Linked DNA regions of Homo sapiens: region 1 is linked to region 2. Evidence: fine-mapped expression QTL. Tissue or cell type: pituitary. Region 2 holds a variant in brackets; the other region holds the start of a gene. All regions are shown on one strand. Distances are from middle to middle.

Region 1 (8,105 bases), 230 kb before region 2:
CTCTCTGTGGGCTGGTGGCAAGGACCCTCGGGGTAAAACTAATGGTTAGGACTCACACTTTTCTCCTCACCCCAGACACGAGGCTCTGTTGTCCCGAGGTGGGGTGTATGCTGACATGTGGCAGCTGCAGCAGGGACAGGAAGAAACCTCTGAAGACACTAAGCCTCAGACCATGGAACGGTGACAAAAGTTTGGCCACTTCCCTCTCAAAGACTAACCCAGAAGGGAATAAGATGTGTCTCCTTTCCCTGGCTTATTTCATCCTGGTCTTGGGGTATGGTGCTAGCTATGGTAAGGGAAAGGGACCTTTCCGAAAAACATCTTTTGGGGAAATAAAAATGTGGACTGTGCGAGGATCACTGTGGCTTTGTGGGATGGGGTACTGCAGCGGGCCTCTACCCATAAGTCAGATGAGCATTCTTGACACGGCTTTCCTGTTTGAGGTTAGAGAGGAGAGAGAAACACACCACTTGTACGTTTTATCAACTGCCAAGATCCTTTATTTTTTCCAGGCCCCTTCCTGCCCACTCCACATCGGGGCAGCTCCAGCATAAGGGAGATGACATGATGAAGGGGCTAAGAGTAGGGCCTGGCCAGCATCCACTGAGGGCCCAACCAGGGAACAGTTGCTAGCCGCTCTCTTCCATGCAGCTGGAGCACTAGCAAGGCCTTCCAGAGGCTCCCAGGGCGACCTCCACATCACTCCCGCTTGTCTCTGCCCTCCAGGGTGCTCCGGGCCTCCTCTCCCTGTGTACCCTAGAGGTGTGAGGGCCACAGTCCTCCTCAGGTGAACCTCCCTCCCCAAGCCCAGGGCCCTAGCACAGGCTGCAGTTGGACGGCTTCGAGCTGCGGCTCTGGGCCTAGAGCAAAGAGAGGGGAAGGAGGGGAAGACACAGTGCAACGTCAAGGAAATGAGGGACAGCCCTCATTTCAGAGCTCAGCATGGGCTGGAGTCATACTGAAAACCAGACGATAACCACCATTCCAAAACTCTGCACCACTAGGAAGAACCCCCATCCCTGACTTCTTCCTCCCTTCCACTGCAGCATATATCTTCAGCCCAGCCTCATACCTGCTGCCGCTGGTATTCTGCCTCACTGGCTGACAGTGCTTGTGCTAAAGCTAGGTCTTCTTCCTCCTGACAACTGGGAGGGAGAAACAGTTTAAGTTGGATGATGGTAAGATCTGAAATTTGAACATCTGATCTGTGTGTGTTGGGCCTCATGGTGCTGAGCACTGCTGAGGATTATCTCAATCTTCATAGCAACACTACAAGGTGGGTATTAGTATTGTCCCCGTTTTATAGAGGAAATGAAGGCTCCATGGGTTAAATAACTTGTCAAAGATCATATAGTTCATCTTAATTTTGAGACCAAGTTGCCAGCGATTATCTTGCATTGTGTCAGAGTGGTCCCACCTACCTGCCTCCAGACCAAGCCCTTGCCCACAGCTTGCGCTCTCTTTCACAAGAGGGTAAGGTACCTTGGAACCTGGGGTTTGGTTTCTGCCAGGGACATTTCCAGGGCCCGCTGCAGAGCTTCATCCTCACTCTACAAAGGGAGAAAGAAGACCAGCGTCCTTGGACTTCACTCTCTGTGTGTTTGTTTCTGTCCATCCAACCTCTGCCCAACTCACCAGGCCATTCTGCAAAGCAATCACTGGAGGGGCTGTCCAGGACGGAGATCGGGTTGTGGCTCTACGACAGACATTGAAGAGGTGGAGGTCAGAGGTGTGAAGGGGAAAAAGGGGGAGCAGGGAAACGGGCAGGCCTACCTGCTGGGAGAGGTACAGGAAGGCATGGTTTGACTTGGGCTGGGGACAGTGCTTGTAGAAGCCACAGCTTGTGCTCTGGAGATGGCAGCAAGTCTGTAGGGAAGAGAGATTTTTGGCATGTCTCCAAGAACTAGCCTTACCCAGGAAGTCAGGAGGGGAGTTCTGGAAAAACATGCACTTGAAAAGGAAGCTAAAAGACTCCCCTAGCCGACAGGGTAGGGTTGAAGCTCCCCAATTTATAACAACAGAGCTTGAGTCAGTTCCAAAAGAATGCTTCCCAAAAGCAAGTGGAGGACTTGGCTGCCATTACCCTGCCCGGCTGGTTGGGTGCCCCTCCCCAGAGCAATCATGGTCCAGTGGATGCCGGTGCTTGATGCAGAAGTTTCGGCTACAGCGTTCACAGGTCAGTTTCATCATTTCTCGCTGCCGGCAGCCAGCGCGTTCACACTTATTGGTGAAGATCTGAGGTGAAGTGAGAAGGTTGTCTCTGCTGAGACTCTGATTAGCTGTTTGGGTTTCCAGGCATCCGTAGTCCCAGCTGGGTTGTGGCTGACCCCTACAATGTTTACCTTACGTTTTTGCTGTGCTGGATCAGAGCGACAGTCTCTGTCAATGTGCTCTCCCACAGCACGGTCAGGGGGCTCCCCTCTGGCCACAGGCACAGGCACATTACAGAGAGGGCACACAGGTACCTGGATATCCTGTAGTCAAGGAGCAAGGGTCAGTCTGTGGCCCACTCCAGTCCAACAAATCTCTGGTCCTGAAAGAACTTGGATATGACCCACCACAAACACGCAAAAAAACAGTGTTTCCCAGCACTGACAGCCTCAGAAGGACAAAAGGGAGAAGAAACGTGAGACACAGATTTGGGGGATTCTGCACGCATTCTCCATCTGCCTGCTTTCACCCTGAGGATCGCCCCCTCACCTTTTGGTAAGCAGATCCACAGTGATGCTGGGCGTAGGCCACATGGTCTGCGCAGAAGATGCCTGAGCAGGCATCACACTTAAGCGGCAGAAAATCTGCAAAGAGTTGGTCGGATTGCAGGTCCAGCGGGACCTCGATGTCCTTCTCTCTCACTCAAGTCTTCCACTCGGGAAGGAAAACGCCACCCTATTTTCGACACACCGCCCCTTCCCAAGCCCATTACCTCCTTGGCCACGCCCCCTCTGCCGCTGACCACCCCCCCCCAGCTTCAAGCCCCGCCCCCCGGCATTGCCAGCCTGGGAGCCCACCCTTCCCTCCCAACCTGCGGTTCAAAGTCCCTGTCCGCTGGGCCCCGCCCCCCGCGCGCTCCGCCCCTCACCCAAGCGCTGACAGCTCGGCTCCGAACAGTGAGCGCCGAGGTCCGGAAACTCCATCGCCAAGCCGGGCAGGGTCTGCTAGGAGAAGCGACGAGTGCTGAGCGTCTTTAGGGCTCGTGCTCGAAGTCCGCACCGCGACCCCGCACTCTGGCGGGCTCCCTGCCCCGCCCCTTCCTCTCCCCCGCCCAGCCCGGGTTACCGGAGCCCCCGCGCCAGCCGGCCCCCGGCGCCCGCTCCTCCCTCGGCGCGCGCGGCGCGCTGACGTCATCCCGCAGGGCTGGCGCGTCCGGCGCAGTCTCCGGGCAGCCGGGGAGGGCCTCGGTTGAGCCCCGCCCCGCCTCGCCTTGCTCTAGAAGGCTGAGTCGGAAGACTGTCCCGAGGCGAGAGGGTGTTGATGCGCGGCTCCGCCACCCTGGGCGCGGGCGTAGCTCCGCAGAGGAAGGCCAGCGAAGGCAAAGACGGATATCTTGGGGGATGGAAGGCTGGGTGGTTTGGGGTCTTTCACAATTCGGTCCTTAGCCCGCTTCACACACGATGCCCTCCTCCTGGCCATTTTGTTCACGGCCACGGCTGCCCTTCGCCTCCACGAGCTGACAGCTCCTGTATTTCTCTGAAGTACAGACGTCTCTAGAGCTGCAGATCCCTCCTCAGTCTGAACTAGGCGCACCTGCTATGTGATCTTACTTCTTCCATTCTAGCACCCATATCACTAATGCGACCAACCCCTATATGAGCATACTGGGAAATCAGGAACCACGTCTACCTTGTTTCGTGTTAGGTCCCAGCACCTAACAGTGCCTAGAACAGTGTGGTCCTCAGTCTTTAGTGTGAATCCAAATCGCCTACGGAGCTAGTTTAAAATGCGGATTTCCGGGCCCTGGAGCTTCTAATTCAGTAGGAAGCACCTGAAGGAATTCTGACACAGATTGCCATGCACCACACTCTGAAAAACCCTAGCCTAGAATATTCTTAGTAATTATTGAATGTAGCCAGGACTACAGGCACAAGCCACCGTGCTCAGCTAATTTTTAATTTTGTAGAAATGGGGTTGGGGAGGGGTCTCTCTTTGTTGCCCAGATTGGTCTCGAACTCCTGGCCTTAAGTGATCCTCCTGCCTTGGCCTCCCAAAGTGCTGGGATTACAGACGTGAGCCACCACACCTGACCAATATAATTTTTTTTTTTTTGAGACACAGTGTCACTCTTGTCACCCAGGCTGGAGTGCAGTGGCATGATCTCGGCTCACTGCAACCTCTGCTTCCCGGGTTCAAGCGATTCTCCTGCCTCAGCCTCCCAAGTAGTTGGGACTACAGGTGCACACCACTGCGTCCAGCTAATTTTTGTATTTTTAGAGACGGCGTTTCACCATGTTGCCCAGGCTGGTCTCGAACTCCTGACCTCGTGATCTGCCCGCCTCGGCCTCCCAAAGTGCTGGGATTACAGGCATGAGCCACCACTCCCAGCCAATATTCTTTTTATTTTAAATTGCATCCAGGACTTTATAAATGCTTTTATTTTGTTTCAATATATAACTGTCAGATTTCAAATAATTTTTTCCCAGTCTCATTATAATCATTTGGTTCTAAGAATTTTGTTTATTCATTTTTTTTCCTCTCTATATTCATCAGTACAATTTAGAATTGTAGGCTTCCAGTCCCGGCATGGTGGCTGACGCTTGTAATTTCAGCACTTTGGGAGGCTGACGCAGGAGGATCGCTTGAGCCTAGGAGTTCCAGCCTGGGCAACATAGTGAGACCCTGTCTCTACAAAAATAGAAAGAATTGTAGGCTTTCAGTTTGGAGAAACGTGTATGGAGCAGACTAAACAAAGATAAACACTGCCTCTCTCCCCACTCCCACTTTACAAATGCTCAGATAACCAAAGCCTTGTGGAACTCAAAAAATAAAAATCTTCGGATCTCATTTTTGAGCATGAGCCAGAATGCTTGAAGTGCAAATGTAGTCATTTGTTCTTATGTTGCTATACAGAAATACCTCGCTAGGCATGGTGGCTCATGCCTGTAATCCCATCCCTCGGAGGCCAAGGTGGGAGGGTCACTCGAGTCCAGGAGTTTGAGACCAGCCTGGGCAACATAGTAAGACCTCCCTCTCTACAAAAAAAATTTTTAAAAAGTTAGCTGGGCATGGTGGCATCCACCCGTTGTCCCAAATACTCGAGAGGCTTTGGTGGGAGGATTGCTTGAGCCTAGGAGCTCGAAGTTGCAGTGAGCTATGATTGTACCACTGTGCTTCAGCTGGATAACAAAGTGAGACCCTGTCTTTAAAAAAAAAAAAAAATCTGAGGCTGGTTGATTTATAAAGAAAGAGGTTTAATTTATTCATGGTTCTGCAGACTGCATAGGAAGCATGGTGCCAGCATCTGCTCAGCTTCTGGTGAGGCCTCAGGAAGCTTCTAATCATTGCAGAAGGCCTAGGGGGAACAGGCATGTCACATGGCAAGAGTGGGAGCAAGAGAGAGAAGAGGGAGGTCCCAGAGTCTTTTCAAAACCAGATCTGATGTGAACTGAGTGAGAATTCACTCATCACCAAGAGGATGGCACTAAGCCATTCATGAGGGGTCCACTCTCAGGTTCCAATCACCTCCTGCCAGGTCCCACCTCTGACATTGGGAATACATTTCTTTTTCTTTTCTTTTTTTTTTTTTTTTTTTCTTTTTTGAGACAGAATCTCACTCTGTCGCCCAGGCTGGAGTGCAGTGGCACAGTCTCAGCTCACTGCAACCTCCGCCTCCCGGGTTCATACCATTCTCCTGCCTCAGCCTCCCAAGTAGCTAGGATTACAGGCGCATGCCACCACGCCCGGCTAATTTTTTGTATTTTTAGGAGAGATGGGGTTTCACCGTGTTAGCCAGGATGGTCTCGATCTCCTGACCTCGTGATCCGCCCGCCTCGGCCTCCCAAAGTGCTGGAATTACAGGCATGAGCCACTGCGCCCGGCGGGAATACATTTCAACATGAGATTTGGAGGGGACACATATCCAGACCATATCATGCCATAACAGACTTACCTCAGAGACCCCAGCGACCACGATAAAAGTGAATGAAGCTCTCACGGTAGTATCTCTCTTCCCAGGCAAATATTTTTCTGACTGATGGGTTATAGTCCTGACTAAGCTCTCTGTGCTGATTACCAGCCCAGGGGCTTTCTCACTGGGTGATGTTCTCATCCCACGATTTAAAAAGAGTGCCCGCACAAACCAAAGTCACCATTCCCCAATGTAGCCTCCTTGCTTCCTGAATAAAAGAAGCCAGGAGAACACTGAGAGAGAAATCAAATAACATTTTGCAACTTGAATTAGCTATTTTAGGAGATATCAATTAACAACTGAGCATTACTTAAGTCTCTTTTATTGTAGACCAACAAAGCATACACAGACCTGCTAAGCAGCCTTGCGCTTTAGCTGTGGGTAACTGAGCTGCAGCCTCTCATTGGGACAGTAGACATAGGTTCCTCTAAAATTCGCAGGCATAGTCATAGCCAGACGCCAGTTATTTTAGCTTTAGCAGGTCTAAAGCAGACAAGGTCAAACTGAGGATAGCCAGAAAAGGTGTCTTGGCTCCAATTCAACTTGAATATTAGTTTAATGGTATTTGTCTCAGTGGTTTTCCGCCTCTCAATTGACTCTTAGTGAAACAGTGCATATAGAAATGGAAGGAAAAGGCCAGGCACGATGGCTCATGCCTATAATCCCAACACTTTGGGAGGCTGAGGTGGGCAGATCACCAGAAGCCAGGAGTTCAAGACCACCCTGGCCAACATGGTGAAACCCTGTCTTTACTAAAAATACAAAAATCAGCCAGGCATGGTGGCAACAGAGCGAGACTATGTCTCAATTAATAAAGAAACAGGAAAAAAAAGAAATGGAAAGAAAAACTAGCACTTATTGTTGTGTCCTGCTCTTCCTCATGTGTTAGCTTATTTAATCCCCTGTGAAAATCCTTTGAAGTAGGCCGGGCACGGTGGCTCACGCCTGTAATCCCAGCACTTTGGGAGGCCAAGGCGGGCAGATCACAAGGTCAGGAGATCGAGACCATCCTGGCTAGCACGGTGAAACCCTGTCTCTACTAAAAATACAAAAAATTAGCTGGGCGTGGTGGCGGGCACCTGTGGTCCCAGCTACTCGGGAGGCTGAAGCAGGAGAATGGCGTGAACCCAGGAGGCGGAGCTTGCAGTAAGCCGAGATTGTGCCACTGCACTCCAGCTTGGGCAACAGAGTGAGACTCTGTCTCAAAAAAAAAAAAAAAAAAAGAAAGAAAATCTTTTGAAAAAGATATCATGTATCCCCATTTTGCAGATAAAAAATCTGAAGTTGAGAGAGATTAAATTACTTGCTACGAAGTCAGAATCTGGACCTAAATTTTTGTATTGTCTTCAGTTCTATGTTCTTTCCATCATACAAATTTGCCTCCCAAAAATCTACTCTTGGACCCTCCTTAACTACTGAAAAGAGGAATCTTTTTTTTTTTTTTTTGAGATGGAGTATCGCTCTGTCGCCCAGGCTGGAGTGCAGTGGCATGATCTCAGCTCACTGCAACCTCTGCCTCCTGGGTTCAAGCAACTCTCCTGCCTCAGCCTCCCAAGTAGCTGGGACTACAGGCGCCCGCCACCACACCCGGCTAATTTTTAGTAGAGATGGGGTTTCACCATGTTGGCCAGGCTGGTCTAGAACTCCTGACCTCATGATCCACCCACCTCTGCCTCCCAAAGTGTTAGGATTACAGGTGTGAGCCACCATGCCCAAGTCAAAAAAAGGAATCTTAAGTGATGATTTTTCTCAGAGTGTTTGGGGAAAATCCCAAATCTCTCCGTGGGTTATCAAAAATCAAACACCTTATCAGTGCAAGGTATTTAAATATTTAAGTGAAGTACCAGGATGCGGAAGCTGATTGAAGCTGGTTTCAGATCCTAGGAGATTAGTCGGCTGGCATGACTGCCTTCCCTGAGTTCTGCCTTGCTCCCTTGGGTGTGTGATACACAATCTTTGTGACAATGCTCAGCCGTTTGTCCTC
Region 2 (8,105 bases):
CCAAAGTGCTTGGATTACAGGCATGAGACACTGTGCCTGGATGAATATTTCTTTCTTTCTTTCTTTTTTTTTTTTTTTTGAGACAGAGCCTTGCTCTGTCGTCCAGGCTAGTGCAATCTTGGCTCTCAGCAACTTCCACCTCCTGGGTTCAAGTGATTCTCCTGCCTCAGCCTCCCATGTAGCTGGGATTACAGGCACCCATCACCACGCCCAGCTAATTTTTGTATTTTTAGTAGAGATGGGTTTTCACCATGTCGGCCAGGCTTGTCTTGAACTCCTGAACTCAAATGATCCTCCCACCTTGACCTCCCAAATTGCTGGGATTACAGGCATGAGCCACTGTGCCTGGCCCCAGCTAACTTTTTCTGTTTCTGAGAATTCTCTCCCACTGGATCCTGTTTGCTGTTTCTTTCCTAGCATACCCTTCTTTGAAAACAAAAGACAACATAGCTTAGTGGTTTGGAGGTTTGGGCTGGACTTCCAGGGTTTAAAAGCTCTGACACTTGCAAGCTATGTGACGTTATTCAAGTTACTTTACTTCTTTGTGCTTCAATTACCTCATCTGTAAAATGATAATATCCATTTAACCTACCTCATAGAGTTGCTATAAAGATTAAATAACGATTTAAGTACCTTGCTACATATATCAGTGCTTTCTATTAAACAAGCAGACAAAACAATCCAAAACAAAGCAAGCACCTGCCTCCTCTCCCTCTCATCCCCATCAGATGCCCTCCACATGCCCTGGAAAGGAACCTGGGCTTACTTTTCCACGCCAGCCCAGTCCTTGTCCTGGGCCCACATGGTGAACTTCACCAAGAACAAGCCTCTTGACTGGCTATGGCTCCGCAACCACTATCACATGAGTTGGCCTCCTATACTCAGAACATCCTCCGTTTCTTTATGAAGTAACAAAAGAATGTATTGAATTTCAAATTGTAAGATCTCAGCTAGCTACTAGCTATGTGACTTTAGGAATATGTCTACACCATTCTGACACTTAGTTTTCTCCTCTAAAATGTAGATAATAGTAATGCTTACTTCCCATGATTCTATGTAGACTATTACATGAAATTTGGAAGTGGGAAGTTTTCTTGTTACAGCAACTAACATTACCATAACTGATACCCATATTATATTTGATCTTTACAATAATACCCTGAAGTACACATTATTATTTTCTTCACTTTATAGATTAGAAAACTGAGCCACAGAGGGATTAAGAAACTCGTCTAAAGTCACACAGTGAGAAAGGGCAGTGCAGGATGCGGACCTAGTTTGATTTCAGTGGCAGTGAATTCTCTTAACCACTAAGGATGTGAAAGAGGTTTATATGCTCAAGCCTCCTAGAAGTAATAATAATAAGGGCTGATACTTATTGAACCTTTATGTGCCAGGCACTATTCAAAGAGCTTTACATTCATTTAATTCTTACAACCCTCTGGAGTTGGCTCTAGTGTTATTCCCATTCTATAAATTAGGAAAACTGAGGCACAAAATGTTAAATAACTTGCATGGGATCGCAGAGCTGCCAAGTGGTAGAGATGCATTTCAAGCCCGGCCAGCCCAGTTTTCACTCTATCCCCACCCCTTATTCTCTGATCTTCACTACTGGAAGAATGAGCAGATTCTGAGATTCTGAGAGGCCAAGGAAGTAGCAGAACTATATGCCCAAACCCCAGCTCAACCTCAAGCCAGGTGCTCTATTCCAGCATTCACCAGGGGTTCCAGACAAATAGCAAAGTGAGAAATGCATTTTAGAAGTCTTGTGGTCTACAGTGACCCTTGCAAATATCTCGAACAGCATGGTGGAGTAGAAGGAACCCAGAAGGGCGTGGCTTCAGACTCATCCACTGCCTATTCCCTGTGAGACTGAGAAGGCTGCTTACTCTCTGTGAGGCTCAGTGACCTCATAAAATGGCAACACTGATCATACCTGCCTTGTTGGTTTGCTGCAAGGACAGAGCCTGTGCCTAGAGAGTCCAGCACAGAAAGCTGCTCTATAACTGTCATCCCCCACACTGATCAGCCCAGAAGCAAAGACCCGCCTTGCAAGTTCATCCCATTTCCCACCAGTCTAATCCTCCAATTCTACACCCAGTTCTCCCTCCATGAGGCAGAGATGCTCTTTCCTTGAGATTCCTTCCTTCCTTGAGGTCAGAGAAGAAGGAAGTAACTAAAGGAGGCTGGAAGGCCAGACCTTGAGCATTAGGTTCCTTTTTTGGAAGAGGAGGTCAAGTTGCTTAGCAACACAGCAGGAGGTTGTCAGGGAGGCTTCAGGCAGCACTGTCCGTTTTTATCCTGCAGTATGGAGAGATCTGGAGCAACACAAGATAGGGAGATGGATGGGAAAAGTGACAAAAGATCCCAGGCTCCGATGATAACCTCTTGGAGTCAGCCTCCTTTCCTATGATCACCTTCCCAATCCCCCAACCTTTCCCCCTGGTTTTCTACTTTTGACACACAGTTCTAGGGCATCTTGCACACACATTTGTGCAATGGCCATGTCTATGACCATGAACATGAGGGCCAGACTCAGGACCACCTTGTATTTATTATATGCTTTACAACTTACAGATCACATCATAGACACAATTTCAAATGATACTTGCAGCAGCCTCATTAATCATGGGAAAAGGCAAGGCATATGGCTCATGCCTATAATCCCAGCACTTTGGGGGACCAAGGTGGGCAGATAACCTGAGGTCAGAAGTTCGAGACTAGCCTGGCCAACATGGCGAAACCCTGTCTCTACTAAAAATACAAAAATTAGCTGGGCATGGTGGCGGGTGCCTGTAATTCCAGTTACTTGGGAGGCTGAGGCAGGGGAATCGCTTGAACCCGGGAGGCGGAGGTTGCAGTGAGCCCAGATCATGCCACTGCACTCCAGCCTGAATAACAGAGCAAGACTCCATCTCAAAAAATATATATAATATATATTCTTATATATTATACATTATTATATATAACATATTAATATTATACATTATTGTATATAACATATTAACATTATACATTATTGTATATAACATATTAACATTATACATTATTGTATATAACATATTAACATACATTATTGTATATAACATATTAACATCATACATTATTGTATATAACATATTAACGTCATACATTATTGTATATAACATTAACGTCATACATTATTGTATATAACATATTACCGTCATACATTATTGTATATAACATATTAACGTCATACATTATTGTATATAACATATTAACGTCATACATTATTGTATATAACATATTAACGTCATACATTATTGTATATAACATATTAACGTCATACATTATTGTATATAACATATTAACGTCATACATTATTGTATATAACATATTAACGTCATACATTATTGTATATAACATATTAACGTCATACATTATTGTATATAACATATTAACGTCATACATTATTGTATATAACATATTAACGTCATACATTATTGTATATAATAATATATATCAATATTCTATATATAATATATCAATATTCTATATATAATATATCAATATTCTATATATAATATATCAATATTCTATATATAAAATATATCAATATTATATATATATATATATATGTAGTGGGAAGATGATCATGATTCCTATATAACAGATGAGGAAAACAAAGTCCCAAGTTCCCACAGTGAGGAAATAGCAGAGTCCAGATTTGCTGCAAATCTCAGGATAGTTCTACTATACCCTGATGCATGGACATTAGTGCAGTCATTAGCAACGTGTGTGCATGCCATTCTTAGGGCCTAGTGTCCCAAGATGCATCTCCTCTCACCCCTGATCAGCAGGGGAATTGTGAAGGAAGGACTCAGCTGTTCTTCCCTGTTGGTTCCAACCAGCCTGGGGGGATCCCTGGAGTGGGAAGTCCCAAAAGGGGCCTGGCCTGCTGGCCCAAAGACCTAGACTCAAGAATGTTGCTATGTTAGGCCAGGCTGGCAAAAGTATCTACATACTGACAGCAGAAGCAAGTCCTCTGGCTGGCATTCTAAAGAGAGGCACGTGGGTCACACTGGGACCAAGGCCTGGCAGCAAGGAGTAAACACAGTCATCCAGGTCACAGGATAGCTCATGGGAGGCCCAGGCCTTCAGGGCTCCCCACTATCTCAGGGGCCAGCAAAGCTGGTTAGAGCACCCCAGGGCCCCATTCTGGACTCTGTCCCTGTCCTGGTCATTGTTTAGTCCCTGTTAATAGTTATTAATAGTGCTGACTACTATAGCAATAGTTCTTACCCTAACAACAGTAATATGTCATTCCTATCATAGGCACCTGATAGACACTAACCCAAGATCTTATTCCGATCTGATAGATGAGAAAACTGAAATTCAAAGAGATTGAATTGCTGTCTTCGATTAGTAGCTAATATATGG[T/C]AGAGGAGAGACTCAAACCTCTGACTCATAGTCTTTTGTTCCGTGCATCACATCACACTAACTTTAAATGTCAGGGAGGAGAAAGGACCCCCAGGGGAACATTCAGCCACCTCCCACTCCTATATCCCCAAACTGCACATGCTCAGGACCATGTAGTCCAGCATGGCTCCGTTGGTGCTCTATACAGGACAGGTAATTTGAATAATTATTTTGATTAAAATTGTATCAACTTCCAGAAAATGATTTTACATGACTTACCATATTAAAATGTACATAAAAGAAGATATTCAAATTTAAAAGACAAATTTAAAAAGCCATTGGTAAAATATGAGAAGTATTCTTATAAAAGGGAAAAGGAAAGATGTCTTTTTTATCCCTTTTAATTTTGTCATCACTACTACCACTGAACACTGTACTGGAGAGCCTAGACAATGCAACAAGACAGGAAAAGATATACACTGTGTGTAAATATTGAGAGGGAAGATACTAAAATTTCCTTGTTTACAGATGATATGACTGCCTACCTATAAAATCCAAGAGATTCAACTAGAACACGGTTAGAACTAATAAAATTCCAGTAAGGTATAAGATCAACATACCAAAAAAAAAAAAAAAAAATACGGCTCCCCTATAACCCTGTAAAAAGAAGAAAAGGAATTGAGAATTGCAAGCTTACAACAGCAATACAAATATGCTCCCAGATCAACCTAATGAAAACATGAGAAACATCTAAATAAAGAAAGCTATAAATATTCACTAAGGAACTGAAGTAAGAAGACCTGAGTAAATGAAGAGACTGAGCACGTTCCTGGGTGGAATGACTCAATATTGCAAAATTGACATATCTCCAAATTGATCTATAAAAGTGATGCAGTCCCAATTCAAGTCACAAAGGGATTTTATGGAAATTGACAGGCTTGGTTCTCAAGTTCTTCTGTACTGTGATTAAGAATAGACAAGACACGACCAGGTACTGTGGCTCATGCCTGTAATCCCAGCTTTTGGGAGGCTGAGGTGGGTGGATCATTTGAGGTCAGGAGTTCGAGACCAGACTGGCCTACATGGTGAAACCCTGTCTTTACTAAAAATACAAAAATTAACTAGGCACAGTGGTGCATGCCTGTAGTTCCAGTACTCGGGAGGCTGAGGCAGGACAATCACTTGTACCCGGGAGGTGGAAGTTGCAGTGAGCCAAGATTGCATCACTGCACTCCAGCCTGGGTGACAAAGTGAGACTCCATCTCAAAAAAAAAAAAAAAAAAAAAGACAAGACAATTTTAGCAAAAGAATAATGAGCATGCTGCAAAACTAGTTATTAAAGAAGTGGTTTGAAACAGCAGTAGTTAAGCAGATTAATGGAACAGAGTAAAGCCTCGAAATAGATTCATATGTGTGGGAATTTCATAAATAATAAGATGGTATTTACTGGGGGTAAAGGAAGACTGTTCAACGATTGGCACAACTTAGTAGTCATTTGGGGAAAATAATTATATCTCTACCTCTCGCCACATACAAAGTTGAATTCCAAAATAGATTAAAGAATGAAATGAAGACACTATAAAAGCACCAGGATAAAATTCAAAGTGTTTTAAAATGCAAAGTAAAGCCAACCAAAAACCTAGCACAAATCAAGAACAATTGAAAAGAGAAGAGAGGCCGGGAGAGGTGGCTCACACCTGTAATCCCAGCATTTTGGGAGGCTGAGGCAGGCAGATCACCTGAGGTCAGGAGTTTGAGACCATCCTGGCTAACACGGTGAAACCCTGTCTCTACTAAAAAATACAAAAAATTAGCCGGGCATGGTGGCGGGCGCCTGTAGTCCCAGCTACTCGGGAGGCTGAGGCAGGAGAATGGTGTGAACCCAGGAGGCGGAGCTTGCAGTAAGCCGAGATCGCGCTACTGCACTCCAGCCTGGGCGACAGAGCGAGACTCCATCTCAAAAAAAAAAAAAAAGAAAAGAAAAGATAAAACATCTAGGAGAAGTTAGTTACCATAGGTGTGTTCTAAAAATGTGTATTTGGTGGCATGCTTATTGGCAACCAAAGGTAAACATGCAGACTGTCACACCTTTTAGTCCATTTATTCTTTTATTCTTTGTTCTAAGGAGGTAAGTGGGCAAAGACGTGACACACAAATGCTTATCATAACATTTATCATAATAAAAAAATGGCTATTACCTGAATAAACATCAGCTCTTATTTATTGAGAGCCTACCTCATGCCAGGCACTGTGCTAATTCTCATTATTCAAAGGATATGAACAAGTTAATGTGAAGAGAAAAATTTCCCCTAGCTTTATTATTTGAATAAAGGACAGTGGATCTTCTATGGCACTTATGAAAAAGATAGAGAAGTGCTTTTTAAATGCTCTTGGATGGATCCTTGTAAGAGTGTGCACATATGTGTGTCCATGCTCTGTGTGTGGGCATGCACCTTATATGTGCTTTGTGTGTAATAGACATGGCTGCCAGGCTGGACAGGAGCTTAACTCCCCTTATCCAGCAAGGGACATTGTTAAACCCTAGGGATTTGGAAACAGCTTGGGGTTGGGGGAAGGAGCAAAGGGACTTTGGAGATGTGTGAGAGGGGAGTGGGGGACATGGCTGCAGAAATGTGTTTCTCCTTTTCCAGACACTGTCCAGTGTCACTTTTTTTCCTGTTCCTCCTTCCTTATCTCTTTCTCTTTCCCTCTTCCTTCTCTCTCTCTTTCTCTCTCTCTCTCTTGCTCCCTCTCTATTTTTCTCTTTTTCTTTCTTTCCTTATAATTCTCTTCTTTTTTAGGTCATAATAATATATTTTCAGGAAGATAAATGCTATGAAGAAAATAAATTAGGGGCATGTGATTGAGGGTAACTGTGGGACAGATTGAGATTAATTCAGGAGATGATGATGAGAAGGAGGAGTCTATTAAGTCGAGATCTAAATAACAAGAAGGAGACAGCTGTTTAAATCTCTCTCTCTCTCAGAAATGGGATGATATGACAATGTTTTCAATCTCCTATTTCCATTTCATCGTGCCATTTTTGTCATGTTGATAAATATATATTGATGTACAATTTTTTTTTTGAGACAGTCTCACTCTGCTGCCCAGGCTGGAGTGTAGTGTGGCTCAATCTTAGCTCACTGCAACCTTCACTTCCCGGGCTCAAGTGATCCTCCCTCCTCAGCCCCCCAGTAGCTGGGACTACAGGCACAGCCACCATGCTCAACTAATTTTTGTATTTTTAGTAGAGACGAAGTTTCACCATGAGGCTCGTCTCAAACTCCTGAGCTCAGGTGATACACCTGCCTCGGCTTCCCAAAGTGCTGGGATTGCAGGTGTGAGCCACCGTGTCCAGACTGATGTACAATTTTTTTTTTTTTTGAGACGGAGTCTTGCTCTGTGGCCAGGCTGGAGTGCAGTGGTGTGATCTCGGCTCACTGCAACCTCCGCTTTCCAAGTTCAAGCGACTCCTCTGCCTCAGCCTCCCGAGTAGCTGGGACTACAGGCACGCACCACCACTCCCGGCTAATTTTTTGTATTTTAGTAGAGATGGGGTTTCACCATGTTGGCCAGGATGATCTTGATCTCCTGACCTCGTGATCCGCCTGCCTCGGCCTCCCAAAGTGCTGGGATTACAGGCTTGAGCCACCACGCCCGGCCTGATGTATAATTTTTAATGGTCCATAATATCCCAGTGAATATCACTTTATCACAATTTACTT

Which allele goes with the higher level. Alleles are on the strand shown, and positions count from the first base shown. SD is a standard deviation of normalised expression in the study named.
In carriers of allele T in region 2, the expression in pituitary of the gene that starts at base 3,340 in region 1 tends to be higher than with C alone (small effect, 0.32 SD a copy in GTEx).

Evidence for each region. PIP is the estimated chance that this variant, and not a neighbour inherited with it, causes the effect.
Region 1: it holds the start of ZFAND2B, and the variant in region 2 is fine-mapped to the expression of ZFAND2B in pituitary (GTEx, PIP 0.98).

The regions. Positions count from the first base shown.
Region 1 is chr2:219,202,017-219,210,121 of GRCh38, reverse strand. It overlaps ZFAND2B (zinc finger AN1-type containing 2B), which reads right to left and starts at 3,340. Exons shown (of 9, transcript NM_138802.3): 1 at 3,080-3,340; 2 at 2,701-2,795; 3 at 2,343-2,474; 4 at 2,084-2,235; 5 at 1,774-1,866; 6 at 1,636-1,696; 7 at 1,483-1,550; 8 at 1,073-1,145; 9 at 474-860. The coding sequence starts at 3,134. The coding sequence ends at 816. It overlaps ABCB6 (ATP binding cassette subfamily B member 6 (LAN blood group)), which reads left to right. Exons shown (of 19, transcript NM_005689.4): 19 at 76-350. The coding sequence ends at 184. RefSeq lists enhancers at 1,882-2,381, 3,499-3,748 and a silencer at 3,049-3,448.
Region 2 is chr2:218,967,064-218,975,168 of GRCh38, reverse strand. No RefSeq gene overlaps it. Among named protein-coding and RNA genes, the nearest start is that of LINC00608, 5.2 kb to the left of the region's middle. The variant T/C (reference allele first, on the strand shown) is at 4,402.